Linked DNA regions of Homo sapiens. The protein of the gene in region 1 purifies or fractionates together with the protein of each later gene. This does not show direct contact. Each region holds a gene or a part of one and is shown on either strand. Other genes may lie near its edges. The genes, in order: STEEP1 and GSTA2.

The links.
Region 2: the proteins of STEEP1 (region 1) and GSTA2 purify together in Homo sapiens (affinity purification with mass spectrometry; one large-scale study listed by BioGRID and IntAct). This does not show direct contact.

What each region holds. Positions count from the first base shown.
Region 1 is NC_000023.11:119,555,368-119,559,190, reverse strand, and holds part of STEEP1 (STING ER exit protein), read left to right. Parts: intron 1-3,823.
Region 2 is NC_000006.12:52,753,236-52,757,058, reverse strand, and holds part of GSTA2 (glutathione S-transferase A2), read left to right. Parts: intron 1-749; coding exon 750-801; intron 802-1,983; coding exon 1,984-2,116; intron 2,117-3,823. UniProt on the Homo sapiens protein: Catalyzes the conjugation of glutathione to a large variety of electrophilic compounds.

The DNA.
Region 1 (3,823 bases):
GCTGGAGTGCAATGGTGTGATCTTGGCTCACTGCAACCTCCGCCTCCCAGGTTCAAGCGATTCTCCTGCCTCAGCGTCCTGAGTAGCTGGGATTTCAGGCACCTGCCACCACGCCTGGCTAATTTTTTGTATTTTTAGTAGAGATGGGATTTCACTATGTTGGCCAGGCTGGTCTCGAACTTCTGGCCTCAGGCGATCCACCTGCCTCTGCCTCCCAAAGTGCTGGGATTAGAGGGGTGAGCCACTGCGCCCGGCCTATCTCTGTTTTTTAAGCAGGGGTGTGATGTGGTTAGCTCTGTTTTAGATTTGGGAGTTTGGTATATATGGGAAATTGAAACCTGGGAAGGGATAAAATTACAGAGTGTGGAGCAAGCAGATAGGACTGAATATTTAAAAGGCAGACAAAAGAATTGGAACAGAACCAGAAGAACCTGGTGATGCAGAAAATAGGAGAGAGTATCAAGAAGTGTGTGGGGGTGTGGCTAGGGGACGGTCAGCAGCAGGTGCTAGAAGTCATGGAAAGGTCAATCCTAGGGAATTAAAAAATCCATCCATTCATGCAACAAATATTTCATTTACCGAGCTCCTACTATGTTCCAGGTACTATCCTAGAAGTCTGGAATATATACCAGTGTATTAGTTTTCTTTTTTTTGGAGACGGAGTCTCGCTCTGTCACCCAGGCTGGAGTACAGTGGCGCGATCTCGGCTCACTGCAAGCTCTGCCTCCCAGGTTCACGCCGTTCTCCTGCCTCAGCCTCCCGAGTAGCTGGGACTACAGGCGCCTGCCACCATGCCCGGCTAATTTTTTTTTGTATTTTTAGTAGAGACGGGGTTTCACCGTGTTAGCCAGGATGGCCTCGATCTCCTGACCTCGTGGTCTGTCTGCCTTGGCCTCCCAAAGTGCTGGGATTACAGACGTGAGCCATCGTGCCCGGCCGCCAGTGTATTAGTTTTCTAGAGCTGCCATAGTAAAGTACTACAGCCTGGGTGTGGTGGCTCACGCCTGTAATCCCAACACTTTGAGAGGCTGAGGTGGGTGGATCACTTGAGACCAGGAGTTCGAGACCAGGCTGGCCAACGTAGTGAAACCCCATCTCTACTAAAAATACAAAAATTAGTTGGGCATGGTGGCGCGTGTGCCTGTAATCCCAGCTACTCGGGAGGCTGGGATAGGAGAATTGCTTGTATGGGGAGGCAGAGGTTGCAGTGAGCTGAGATTGTGCCACTGTACTCCAGCCTGGGCGACAGAGTGAGACACTGTCTCAAAAAATAAAAAAAAAATAAAGTACTACAAATTGGGTGGCCTAAAACAAGAGAAGTTGTTTAATAGTTGTGGAGGCTAGAAGTCTGAAATCAAGGTATTGGTAAGTCCATGCTCTCTCTCAAGATTGTAGGGGAGAATCCTTCCTTGCCTCATTCCTGGTTTTTGGCGTTTACCAGCAATCCTTGGCATTCCTTGGCTTGTATTGTAAATGCATCACTCCAGTCAGTGCTTGTATCATCACATGGCATTCTCCCTTTGCCTGTTCTTTTCTTATAAGGGCACCAATCATATTGGATTAAGGGCCCATCCTCCTCCAGTATGACATCATTTTAACTTAACTAATTATGTCTGCAACATCACTATTTCCAAATAAGGTCACATTCTGAGGTTCCTGGATGGATGTGGATTTTTTTTTCTTTTTTCTTTTTTCTTTTTTTTTTTTTTTTTGAGATGGTGTGTGCTACCATGCCTGGCTAGTTTTTGTGTTTTTAGTAGAGATGGGGTTTCACCATGTTGGCCAGGCTGGTCTCAAACTCTTGGACTCAAGTGATCCTCCCACCTCGGCCTCCCAAAGTGCTGGGATCACAGGCATGAGCCACTGTGCCCGGCCAGAATGTGAATTTTTAAGGGTCACTATCTAACCCAGTACAACCAGTAAACAGCAAAGAATCCTGCCCTTATGAAACTTTAGTGTTGAACCAGAAAAAAACTATAGGCTGACATCTAGCTACATGTTTTCTTTCTTTCTTTTCTTTTTTTTTTTTTTTTTTGAGATAGAGTCTCGCTCTGTCACCCAAGCTGGAGTGCAGTGATGCGATCTCAGCTCACTGCAACCTCTGCCTCCTGGGTTCAAGTGATCCTCCTGCCTCAGCCTCCCATGTAGCTGGGATTACGGTTGTGCACCACTATGCCTGGCTAATTTTTGTATTTTTAGTAGAGACAGGGTTTCAACACGTGAAGCTGCTCTTGTGAGCCTCCTTCTCCTTCTTTGGCCTTCTCAATCCTTTGGATTCTTTTTCTTCTGCCTGCCCCTCAAGTATTGGTATTCCATGCGGTTCTGACCTTGCTTTTGTCCCCACTCTCTTTATGCCTTCCTTGGGCATTCTTGTCACCTTACATGGCATTAGTTACACTTTTATGCTGATGATAAAATCTAAATCTGCCTACTGTGCCTTCCTGTGTCCCAGAACTGTATAGCCAGTTGCCTACTCTACCTCTTCACCTGATGTCCTACTTTTCAGATCCAACATGATGAAGGCCAAACTTATCATTTCTCTACTGTGGACAGTACCACAGATCGATTCGCTCAGCACCACTCTGACACTCTTTTTTTTTTTTTTTTTGAGACGGAGTCTCGCTCTGTCACCCAGGCTGGAGTGCAGTGGCGTGATCTCAGCTCACTGCAAGCTCCGCCTCCCGGGTTCAGGCCATTCTCCTGCCTCAGCCTCCTGAGTAGCTGGGACTACAGGTGCCTGCAACCACGCCCGGCTAATTTTTTGTGTTTTTAGTAGAGACGGGGTTTCACTGTGTTAGCCGGGACGGTCTCGATCTCCTGACCTCGTGATCCGCCCACTTCGGCCTCCCAAAGTGCTGGGATTACAGGCGTACTCTGACACTCTTCTGCTACACCCTCCTATACACGAGTGTCTGTAAAGTTAGGGTGCATATTCCAGTCCCCTTCCCCCCAACAACTAAGATTCTGAATATGACTTAGCTTTGGCCAAGCAAAAGAGATGGAAGTAGATGTCAGCTGATGGGTGACTTCAAGCCTTTTTTACCCTTTATCCTTATTCCATCCTGCTTCTTGGGAAATGGACATGATAATTGGAACACTAGCAGCCAGCCTGGAACTGGGAAGGAGAGGCCACAAGAATTGCAGAGCCTTTGCCCTGCTATCCTTGGGTCTCAACCAGTGCTCAGAACTGCCTTCCTCCTGATGTTACATGAGAGAACAAGCTCTTTTGTTGAAGCCATTGCAGTCAGGTCTCTATTACTATTAGCCAAATGCTAGTCCTTCTTTTCCTTCTTCTTATGATGACACCAGGATTCATGCAGTGGCCCCAGCCAGAAATCTAGGAGTCAGTCTCTCTTTGTCTCATCTGTCCCCACCATCCCACCATCATCCCCTGCATACATCTAGTCACTCACCATGTACTGTCGATTCTGCCTTCTAATCTCTTTTGTGGCTGCTGCCTCCTGTTCAGCCCTGCTGCACTGCCGTTATTTCAGTACCCAAAATCACTTACTTAGACTACTGAAGTGGCCTCTTACCTGGTCTTTTGGTCTCTAGTTTTGCTCTCCTCCAGTCTATCCTCTACTGCTTGAATTATCTGAAATACACATTATGTCAGTCACCTGCTTCAAATCTGTTAGTGACCCTTCATCACTTATAGCAATGCCTTTGAAACATTTTTAGATGAAAAATCCTTTCTTTAATTAAATTCTTACCCAGAAGTATAAATAAGACTGATAAGCAGAAAGCTGCTCTGAGTGGGGAGGAGTCTAGCCCAATCCATTAAGGACTCCTCCTTCCTCCCCATCTGATTTCATTTAGGGAT
Region 2 (3,823 bases), on another chromosome or scaffold:
GCCCTGGGGCAGCCTACGTGTCTATGAGGATGCAGAGAAATAAACACGTGGTTAAAATGAGGGGAGGAGGCTTCTAGAACACACAAGCATTCCCCAATGCCACAAAACCACATCAGAAACCAGAGGTTTTCCTTAAAAATAATGCTAGTGTGGGACCCTAATTCCTTTATTAAATTGAGAATTTTACCCTATTGTGTCTCACGTACTTCAGAAGAGAAAATTACAGTTGCAAGTGTGAAAGCTGTGCAACAGTGGCGACCTATGTCACCCTTAGCAGGGTTCCTGAGAAGTGGGGCGATACAAATTACAGCAGAGGCTCCTTGGTGGCAGAATATTTGATGGCCATTAGCCCATGTCATGCCTCATGCTGGGGACACACAAGGTTGTGGTCTGATCTCACTTGGAGACACAGGCTTTCCTAAGATATGACAACACCATAACTAGAAGAACTGCTCAGTGCCTTTTCTCCAGTGATGTCCCTCTCAAAACATGACCTAATCATAGACATTCATATCAAGGTGGAGGTGAAGTGAACTAGAAGATTGAGCAGCTATGTGCTGTGACCCATGCACTTTTCTCAATGAATTAGGTCTAAATTTCCAAATGGCCATGACTAGCCCCCTCTGTGTACCCTGCCAAACTCAGAAATCTTATATTCTCCAAATGATGCACCAGATAGAGGCCATTCAATTTCACAGGTCTATAATAGAATGAACTAACAAGAACATATTTACTGTTTCTGCTTCCAGTTTGAAGAGAAATTTATAAAATCTGCAGAAGATTTGGACAAGTTAAGAAATGGTAAGATCAACCTCTAAGTTTCTCTAATGAGGGTATCTAGTAGAAGGTACACGGGGAGGTTTGCGCAGCCGGCAATGTCTATGGGTGTGGGGCATGGTATTTGTACATGGTGCAGAGGGAGAAAGTGGTTAAAATGGAAGGGATGTGGCTCCTTGAGCAAGTCTGGCAACTCTCTCCAGGCTTAAAGGACCAGACCTCTCAGAGTATTTGCTAGAGGAACAATCTCCCACCCCTGAGAAAGCCCTTTCTTTGTTTTCATGCTTGGGGTACTGTGAGTGAGCAGTGGTCATCAGCACAGGATCCCATACAGCCCTCTCCATCCAAGCACATGCAAGAACATGCATTAGACAAAAGGAGGAGGAATAGATGTGGCCACTGTCTTGAGTTTTTTCTTTCATGGGGGGAGTGGGACTGGGTAACACTGTAGCAATATCGCAGACTTTGAAGAGCACAGAAAGGGACCCTTATATAAAAACCTCTCAGAACCTGCCTTAAATATCATAAACACCATGAGACTTACTCTGGGAACATCCTGTTTTAAATGACATCTTGTTGCCAGTACTATTGTAACTTGTCCCAACCTCTTCCTAAAATATCCATGAAGATAAATCAACACAAAAAATTCAAGAGTCCCACTATGTATCTGGAGGGGCAACAAAAACATATATGAAATAAATGGATAAAAACTAAAAGGAAACTTCTTAAGAAAAAGAAGAACTACAGGAAGCTTTATAAACATATTGTTTGGACTGGGTGCAGTGGCTTACACCTGTAATCCCAATTTGGGAGGCTGAGGCAGGTGGATGACTTCAGTTCAGGAATTTGAGACCAGTTTGGCCAACATGGTGAGACACCATCTCTTCTAAAAATACAAAAATTAGCCATGTGCAGTGGTGCATGCCTGTAATCTCAGCTATAGAGAGGCTGAGATAGTAGAATCGCTTGAACCTGGGAGGCAGAGGTTACAGTGAGCCAAGATCACACCACTCCACTCCAGCCTGGACAACAGAATGATACTCTGCCTCAAAAAAAAAAAAAAAAAGTTGTTTCAAGTGAACTCTTACCAGGCAGTAATTTCTTTTTCGTTTTACAAATTTAGTCATTTCAACAACCATTTTTTTTCATCCTGAAATGGTGGGTTTCATAGACACTTCACTCTCCTTTTTTTTCTTCCTCTTAAAGATGGATATTTGATGTTCCAGCAAGTGCCAATGGTTGAGATTGATGGGATGAAGCTGGTGCAGACCAGAGCCATTCTCAACTACATTGCCAGCAAATACAACCTCTATGGGAAAGACATAAAGGAGAAAGCCCTGTACGGTATATTTTCTGTTCTTCCATCCACAGAGAACATAGAGTGATTTAGGTCCTTCCTTGAGTGGGTGGGACCATGGCAGGGTATCAAGACCAGCAGCAGGCTGGGCCTTGGGCATGCACGCTGAGGTCCAGTATTGCAGAGTCCCATGGAGATGAGGGAACAGTGAACATGGGGAGGGTTCAGGCGAGGGTGATTCTAGAAGAGGATGCAGTCCATGGACACAGCACCCTGACAAAGGTTTCCAAACTCTCATAAACCCAATGAACTGAGGAGGATGGGGAATCATGTTTCCAGGTGCTCAGGACTTCAGAGGCTGGACCCCGGCCAATGGCTTAGGACAGGCATAGAATATGTGAGAGTCTGTAGATGAAGGACTGGGGAGGGAAAGCTGCAAAGAAACCAAGTCTAAGGTCCCAGTAATTCCAAGTATGATGAACAGGAACCTAAATTACCAACCAATTATATCAACTGGAATACTTGAGCAGGGCTAGTAGAGGCTGGCACCAAGGATACTGGAGTTACCTTGACACATGGATAGAAGGCCGAAACAGCCAGATTGATTCAATACCAGCAAAGCCAAGGGGTCTCCTTGTTGTTGTGATGAGACTGCATGATTCCAAATAAATCCTGAATGAAACTGCTGGCAGCTCCTCAAAAACTTTAATATGGTATTACCGATGACCCAGCAGTTCCTCTAACAAGTATATCCCCAAACAATCGAAAATACATCCACACTATATATTTTACATAAGTGAATAATGCAAATAACAATATTCATAGAATTCAAAAAGTGGAAACAACCCAAATATCCATCAATCAATAAATGGAGGAGAAAAATGCGCCTTAGCCATGCAATGGAAAGATATTTGGTCATGAAAAGGAATGAAGTACGAATGCATGCTACAAGATGGTTAAACCATAAAGACATGTTACATAAAATACACGAGACACAGAAGGCCACATATTATAGGATTATTTTAATATGAAATGTCCAGATATTCAAATCCATAGAGGTAGAAAGTAGATTAGTGATTGCCTGGGGCTAAAGGAGTGGGGCTTGGAGAAAAATGAAGAATACCGCTAATGGTACAGATGTCCTTATCAAGGTGACAAAAATAATTCTGCAATTAGACTGTGATTATTTTTACAGAATTCTGTGAATGCACTGAAAACCACTCAATAGTATAACATAAGAGGTGGCAATTATAGTATGTGAATATGCATCAGTAAAGCTCTTGTTTTAAAAAGTATTGTGAAACTCCAGTTTGACACAAAAGAAGAAAAGTTTGCACGGTTGTAACTGTACAGAGAATTTCACCAGGGAAGGGGTTGGCTCTTAAGAAAGGCACACATGGCTAGAGTTGGGCAACAGCACATGGAGAGGGCTGTGGAAACGTTTTTCATGGGTGTAATTGGAAGAACTGCAAATATGGGGCATAGAAGCAGCCCTGGGAGCTGTAAAATGATGAGAGAGGACAAGGAATATGGCTGAGATGGCTGTGCCAGGGACTCTCTTAGGATTACTTAGGAAGCAGGTCTTTGGCCATTTGACTCACACTAAGTTCATGCACAGAACAAACCACAATGGAGATGATAAATCCTGGCACAGCATCAGTGGGTACTGGCAGTGATTCCACCAATTTCTCTCATGACTGTGACCACCGATGATCTTCTTCCTGTATTAGGTCATGCGTGTAACAAAAT